2 linked regions of the Homo sapiens genome follow. The protein of the gene in region 2 interacts with the protein of the main gene of each other region in a pairwise test. Each region holds a gene or a part of one and is shown on either strand. Other genes may lie near its edges.

The links.
Region 1: the proteins of SPTA1 (region 2) and ENAH interact in a two-hybrid assay, tested with the Homo sapiens proteins (one study listed by IntAct).

Annotation. Positions count from the first base shown.
Region 1 is NC_000001.11:225,651,115-225,655,030, reverse strand, and holds the start of ENAH (protein enabled homolog), read left to right. Parts: upstream 1-2,069; 5' UTR 2,070-2,340; coding exon 2,341-2,345; exon of another isoform or gene 2,346-2,666; coding exon of another isoform or gene 2,667-2,713; intron 2,714-3,916. UniProt on the Homo sapiens protein: Ena/VASP proteins are actin-associated proteins involved in a range of processes dependent on cytoskeleton remodeling and cell polarity such as axon guidance and lamellipodial and filopodial dynamics in migrating cells.
Region 2 is NC_000001.11:158,680,082-158,683,997, forward strand, and holds part of SPTA1 (spectrin alpha chain, erythrocytic 1), read right to left. Parts: intron 3,416-3,916; coding exon 3,290-3,415; intron 1,587-3,289; coding exon 1,446-1,586; intron 649-1,445; coding exon 502-648; intron 1-501.

The sequences.
Region 1 (3,916 bases), about 67 Mb from region 2:
TGTTGGTCTAAGGCTGCCGGTTCCAAAAAGAAAATAACTCGGTATTGAGCTCTGAAACCAGGAATTTTATTTATTTATTTATTTATTTATTTATTTATTTATTTTTTAGATGGAGTCTCGCTCTGTCACCTAGGCTGGAGTGCAGTGGTGTGATCTGAGCTCACTACAACCTCCTCTTCCCGGGTTCAAGCGATTCTCTTGACTCAGCTGGGATTACAGGCGTGCACCACCACGCCCGGCTGTTTTTTTATTTTTTATTTTTAGTAGAGACAGGGTTTCGCCATGTTGGCCAGGCTGGTCTGGAACTCCTGACCTCAGATGATTCGCCTGCCTCAGCCTCCCGAAGTGCTGAGATGACAGGCGTGAGCCACCGCACCCGGCTGAAACCAGGAAGCTTTTTTTATGGTTAAAAATGGGCTACACAGTTCAATTATAGACAAATCAGGCATTGACCACGGATCACTATAACCTGTCTTTTCATTTGGAAGTGTACATTATCCCAACCTTCCTAACTATCTTTTGAATGGTACCTGCATCTTAAAACAAAACACCAAAACTTTTGAATGGATTCCTGGAGTCATGGTAGGTCCTCCATTTTGGATGAGATCCTTCAGCAATAGGATCCCTGTAGCAACAACCCTTTTCTATCCTCCTCACCTTTTATACAGAAAGTACATCCCTGTCTTCCGGACTAAAAGGGGGCCGTAATTCGTACAGTTAAAAATTTTATTATTGGATTTGTTTTTAGATTTAAAAAAAACCGAAAACAAAACCTTCAACAACGATCAATTCTGGCTTCCTGGATGCCCTCCTCCCCGACTTGACTTGAAATGAAATTGCCTCGCCAGTATTTTATATCTACTTTTTAAGGGAGGTGACTTCAAGACCATTGGGAATGACGAAAAATTTAAAATTATCATTAGTTCCTCTCTCTCCCCGCCCCCTGCCCGGGATTCCCTCTTTGCTAATGACGCTGGAAAGCGGCTCCACTGGCTGCGTTTCTCTTCTTCCACTCTTGCGGCAACACACTGTTCCGCGCGCGTCTCCCGGCGACTGCGTTTCCCCGAGAGTCGGCTGCGTTCGTTTGGGGATGAAGTCATCCCTATACCTAGTGTGCACATCAACTCGTTCCATCGGCGCAGCACGCTGGGATTCCTCGGGAAGAAAAGGAGCGAAGGGAACAATGATGACCATATTTTCCATTTATATGCCCCTCCTCAACTCCGCAGGAATCGCTGGGCGCAGCCGCGGCGAGGGCGGGCAGTTGGGCTGACCGGGATGCCCCCCGATTCCCTCATCCCCGTCCTGAGACCGCAACAGGGCGGGCTGAGCACTCGCCCCGCGCGAGGGCACCCGGCCGCGAGCCGACCCGGAGTCTCCTGGCCCGGCCCTGTGCCCAGTCACGCGTCCAAGCTCCCCACGCCGGTGCCTACGGGTCTGGCGCCCAGGAGGTCTCGGCGCCTCGGTCTCCGCACCGTGGCCGTGGGGGAGGCCTCGGAGCTCCCCAAGCCTCTGGGGAGCGGGAGGCGACGGGGAGGGGGCCGACGGTCAAGGACAACCACGGGCGAGGAACCCCGGCCGACAACTGGCCGGAGGTGTTGGGCGGGAGGGGGGGGTGGTGGCCCGCCCGAATCCCAGAGGGGTGCAGGGGGCGGGGTAGGGAGGCAACAAAGAGCCTCTCTCCGCCGCCGCCGCCGTCGCGCTCGCTCTCTCCCAGCCTCGCTCTCCGCAGTCCGGCGGGGGCCCGGCCGCCGGCGCGGGGGAGTGCGCCCGGCCCCCCGCCTCCCCTTTCCTCCCCTCCCCCCGCACCGCCCCCTCGCCCCCGGGGGAAGGAGGGGAGGAGGGCGGCGCCTGCGTGTTCCTCCGCCGCGCGCCCCGCCTCCTCCCGGGTTCCTCGCGGCGATCCCGACTCTCCTCCCGCGGCTGCAGCAGCTGCCGGTTGCACACGGCCTCGGCGGCGGCGCGGCGAGCGCGGGCCTGTGGAGCGGCGGCCGGGCGCGCGGCCCCGGCGGGCACCCCTCAGAGGGCGGCCGAGGAAGCTCCGGGAGGAGGAGCAGGACCACGAGGAGGTGGGAGGCGGCGGCCGCCTGGGGACCAGCTCCGCGCCTCGGCCTCTCCGCCCCCTCCCCAGCCTTTCTCTCGCCCTCTTCTCCCACACTCCCGGCCGGCGCCTCGGCTTTGTGCGAGGAGATGGTGTAGCCCCCTGGCCGCCGAAGGAGGAGCCGGACACTTGTCTCCCGTCTCCGAGCTGCTCCCCACCCCTGGAGGAGAGACCCCCCCCTCGGCTCGGCGCCTTCTGCGTCTCCCGGCTGGTGGGGAAGCCTCTGCGCCGCCGGCACCATGAGGTGAGGGGCGCGCGGGGCGGGGGCCGGGCGGGCCATTGTGCCGCGGGAGCCGCGACCCCCGTTCTCCTCGGACCCCGCCTTCCCTCTCCCGGCCCGGCGCGTCTCCCCTGGTCTCCGGTCTGTTCCTCCCCCCTCCGCCTTTTGTCCCTTCCAATTTCTCTTTCTTTCTTGGAAACCTCCCCAACCCGTGTGGTTTGGGGGTCTCGCTTCATCGTTCTCTCATTTTTCCTCAAATGCTCTTCTTTCACCCAGGATTTCCCTTCCTAAATTTAATTTGCGCCTGGCTCCCTCCCCCAAGCCTTTGCAAGCGAAACCCGGGAGATGGGGAGGGGTTCGAGAATCGAAGCGTGCGTGTTGCTGGGAAACAGGTATTTTTTCGTATATATGTAAAAATTTCATGCACTTTTGCCTCCGAACTCTCGTGTTTAATTAAAAAAGGAAGAAAAGTTTGAAAGGTCTGAAATCTCTGCGGGTAATAAAGTGCCTCTGGTAGGGGTAGGTGAAGGAGCTGTGAAAGGTGAAATTTCACGATGGTGGGGGAAGGGAAAGAATTGATTAGGTTCACGTGGTGGGGGCAGTAAAAGACTGGGATAAGTAAGTTGGTAGGGGTGTGTAAGCGGGGGCGGGGAAGGGATCTGTTTGGAAAAGCCTTTTCTCCCCTTTCTCTGTAGCAGCCTGTGTTGCATTGCAGCAGCTGCTTTTTCCCTTTGCTCTGTACTCAATAAAACAGGAGCTAAATTATTTTTGCGGCCCCGAAGAATTGAATGTACTGTCGTAAAATATTTTTTTAATTGATACGATGAAACATATGGTATGATATTTTTCTTTATTGTTTCTCAAATTGTGTAGGAGAATAAACCGTGATGTGGTGTGTCATTCATTGGAGATTTTTTTTCCAGCCTTTCCTAAACCTGTTCTGTGTCCATAACCTTCTCTTTTCGGATTGGTGCAAGACTTCGTGTGAAATGGGACTTGGTAGACTGAAGGCTGATCCATTCTGCGTTATCATCCTTAAAGGCCTTCCTTTTGGGTTAAACAATTGTGGATAAAGTAAATTACTCCATTTCTCTCTCCTGGAAGAGATAGTCTTACAGTTCATTTGGATTTGAATCTCCTTTGTGTTAAAGATTAATGGCCAACCGTTGCTAAGACCTTTATAATGTAATACAATGAGATTTGAATGATATAATCTACAAATTCCTTCGCTTTGGCAAGAAAATGTCATGTCATTGGAATTCTTTCTCAATTTCGGTAGTTTCCATTTTAAACTTTGCTTTTCATTTTTTTTTTCTATCAAGGTTAAACGTGTTTCCATTTTGCTTTTATATATATATTGTGATATATCTTTGTTGAATTTTTACTTAGGCTTACTGTGAATTTGAATTTTTTTTTCTGATTCCAAGTTACCTGTATTTATGATGGCCTTAAAGAGTGAGTTTAATGTGGTGTCTCTAGGCGACTGACCCCTTTTCCCTTGATGATTTCACACAAGTTATTTTCAAATATAAGCGATGAGTTTAAATAGTAATTATAGCATACGAACCAAAAAACACAATCTTTGTAAAATATGG
Region 2 (3,916 bases):
AAGTATTTTCTTAAGTAAATAAAAGTAAAACCGCTTCCTTTCCTTCCTCAATCCTCCGAAATAATCTTGTATAATGATATTACATATGCATATATATGTATAAATAATGATAGCTCAACATTATTTTATATGCTCTGCTACTTTATTTTTGTGTTTTTTCATGAAGAAAGAGTGCCCCATTAACATGAGTAATCAGTGTACTGCATGGTACAGAAGCTACTATATAAATGGCAATAGCTTCACTGCCCATTGTGTATTTAATTTCTCCAAACACACAAAAACACACTCTCTCTTTCTCTCTCAACCCTCCATTTCAATAGACTTGTAAGGGGTGGGTCCAGAGGGGAGAGGAAACTGTTCAGAATATGTTACTCCAGGAACATGCCAACCTCTGTTTTCTCACAATGCCCCATCTCCTTCATATCCATCTACTAATGGCCAGAAGTTATTCTTAAGGATAAGAACCCTTTGCACGGAGTGAATATTTTGCTCCCACCTCACCTCGGCACACTCATTGGCATATTGGTTCACTTCAACAACTCTCCCTTCTTTAGCTACCAGCTCCACTTGGAAGTCTTCAAATTTCTTATGCAGAACTTCGGTGCGCTCCCAGTCTTCACCTAGCTCCACTGATGTCGCTATAGCCTCCTGTAGACACAGAAGTTGATTGAGTTGCCAGCAAACATTTAGGAGTTTCTGTAGGTCAAAAACTCAAAACTCCTGCTTGCATTCCCAGGATAACTCAAATGGAGATACTGGGGGAGACTGGGAGAAGCTCTCCTGGAAAAGGCCAGCAGCAGAAGTATATTTGTTAAGGTAGCACCTTGGCACAAGGGAAAGTGCTCTTTCGGGCAGTTCTTTAGCAAGTTTGTGGCATTACTGGCAAGAGACCCTGAAAGTACCCTTTTGTGTTTTGAAACATGAGGGATAAATTCATCCTGTTTCTACTCAATTCAACATATCAGTATCTACGAAAGTATTTTGTTAGGCATTTGCTTATCTAAATCTTTAGTCCTAACTATTAAATTATTCCTTTAGTATTTAGAAAAATAAAACCCTCCATCTTTATAGGCACTGAGACACAAAGGATTAGAGAAAGAGCTGTCAATACTCTCAGCCAGACCCCAGAGTAAGAGCAAAAACATAGGAGAAGGAGTTAAAAATCATGGAAGTGGAAGAGAGATGAGCCTAATTATCTTTCAATGCATGGTCTTTGTGTAAGTCTTGCCTTTTTCATATTCAGATCCATATGTTAAGACTTACTTCCATACAATGTTGACCTCCAGATACCCCTACATTTTGGCCCCAATTTCCTCTTGTTCCAAAGAACAAAGCCAGGAACAGACATCCTGACTTCCTTGTGAGTAGTCTGCAGTAATTTGCTATGGGGTACCTGGGACAGAGGAGTGGGAGGCCCTGTGTGATTGCTGTTTTAAGTTCGATACCTTGTCTCCAATCCACTCTAAGATGTCAGCACACTCCTGTACATACTGCTGGAACTTCAGGGCCCGCAGCAACTGGTCACCCTTCTCCAGGGTCAGCTCTAACAGCAGGTCCCACAGGTGGCGTAGCTCCTCTATATGGGCCTTTAGGAAAGAGGGGCAAAACCACTCAGCCACAGACACTGGGAGCAGGGAAACACTCAGAGACTTGTGCAGAAAGAGACCTGGATAAAAATTCTTCTCTCAGTTACTCATGCATTAGTTGCTCAACAAACATTTAAAAGAGGAAATAGGATAGATATATGGAAATAGCTAACAAGCCAAGCCAAATGCGATCTTACATAAGAGAACAATTTGTAAAAATGCTTTGCAGTTTTAAAGGATGGAATAATTACAAACAATAAGATGGGAAGGAGGAAGAAAGCATGGAAAAGTGTTCATTTGAACTGAGCCTTATGGAGCAGAAAGATTTTTGACAGGTCAATCATAAGCATAACATGTTCTAAGAAGAGCAAACAGCAATAGCAAAGGCATAGGAGAAACTTAGCATGAATTGTCTGCCAGAAAGTGTGAGAGCTATAATTTTTATAAGTTATAAGGAAATCATTGGCACCGAAACAATAACAGTGTTTTGGGACTATACAGTTTGAGAATCTACAGAGGGCTTTGAATGCCAGATTAACTCAGAACATTATGTATTACCTGTCTTATATAACTGAAATTGCCACCTATGTCATATCTTCAAGAATCTTATATTTTTCAACTACTCCATTGCTCTGGGTAGCATGTGGACCACATATGTCGTTAAACCCCGCAATGGTACCATTTGCTATAGCCCCAGTGATTCTGACAGAAATGAAGATGTTTCAAACATTTCTCAAATATTGTAATTAATGTAGATGCTGGTTACATGCAAAACTGTGCATAATACAAAAGTTAATTATACTTTATACAAATAAACAAGTTTTGAAATTTTCCTTTTATGGGTTCTTCTTTAAAATAAGATTCTATTCTGGCTAAAATCTGTGTCCGTTGACCATATTTTGATGACAGAATGGGCTAGAATTTTTATGCTATATATAGAAAGGCCAGACCCAGTTTTAAGATATATAATGCAAATTTGTTTTGACAATTAAAAAAATACATAAACAGTAAAAAGTTCACTCACACACAAAAAAATTGAATTGACAATATTAGCACAAACATTTGGAAGAGTTCGTAGATTAAGTCCAAAAATAGCTGTTACATTAATAATAGATTACAGAGTATGAATCCTTATTGAAATAGTGATGATCTTCATTTCTAGATGTTCAGAGAAAATTTTCTGACTACATGACATTTGGGAGTTTTTAGAAGTAATAAGAAGGGACAGTTTGGAGAGGTGCAATAGTAGTCATAGGGTATGGTGTATGAAAAGAAAGAGGCATCATAGACAAAGGAAAAATATTTTGGAAAACATTCAAATGAGAGAGCATTCCTTATTTGGAGAAGTTAAGAGACAAGGACATTGAGGTTAGAGGAAATAATTAGAAAGAACATTGGAAAAAACTAATTGATCTGGATAATGTGGAACAGGTTTAAGTGGGCTTGATCTTGAGCCAAATTATCCTGCACTGTTATAGGAGGAATTTTATGCCATTTAATGACAGCTTTAATATCACAGCTCTCTTCACCCCAAGAAACACGAAGATATCCCATCATTTTTTATGCCTCAACCCCAGGGGAAGATAAGAGGCAGGAGTCCTGGGTATAAGCCAGCCACTCAAGGTTTATATCTCATATAATCAGTTAAAACCCTGATAACATAATCAATAATTGGAAACTTCTTCAAGGGCCCATACATATACCTTCGTTTCTTCGTGGGCAGAATGACCCATGGTAAATCGTTCTTCCCTTGTTTTTTCCAGTTCAGACATGAGTCTTGATTTTGTTTGCACCTCTGCTTCAAGGGATTGATGCTTCTGATATTTCCCCTAAAGTTTAGAAATCAGAGTTTTTGTCTAATGAAGCACAGTCTTCATGGGAAATGTTCACTCTATGTAAAGCCACCAAACACAGGTTCTCAAAGGGTCCCAGACTCAGAGGCCATAAAGAGTATTTTCCTGTCCCCACTGGCTTTAGGAAGTTTTCAGTAAATACTGTCCTGAGCTATGCTGAGCCTTATGATCTATGCCGAGCCTTATTTTAAAGGCTCAATAGACTGCCATAGGAATAAAAGAGTGTAACACACAGTGTCCTTCCTCATCAGAAAAGAGGAATAACTGATTTTTTTTTGGAAGTAGAGCACAATGAGAAAGATGATAGTTATAATAATGGTTTTTAAAAAAAAAAATTGAGAGTTTTTTTTGCATGCTGTGCCTGTTCTTGTAATCTATAAATTGATCCATTCAATATAGCACATTATTTTGCTCTTGTTCTAGGTGTTTCCTGTCCAACATCAATTGCTTCTGATTATGACAACACCACATGCTATA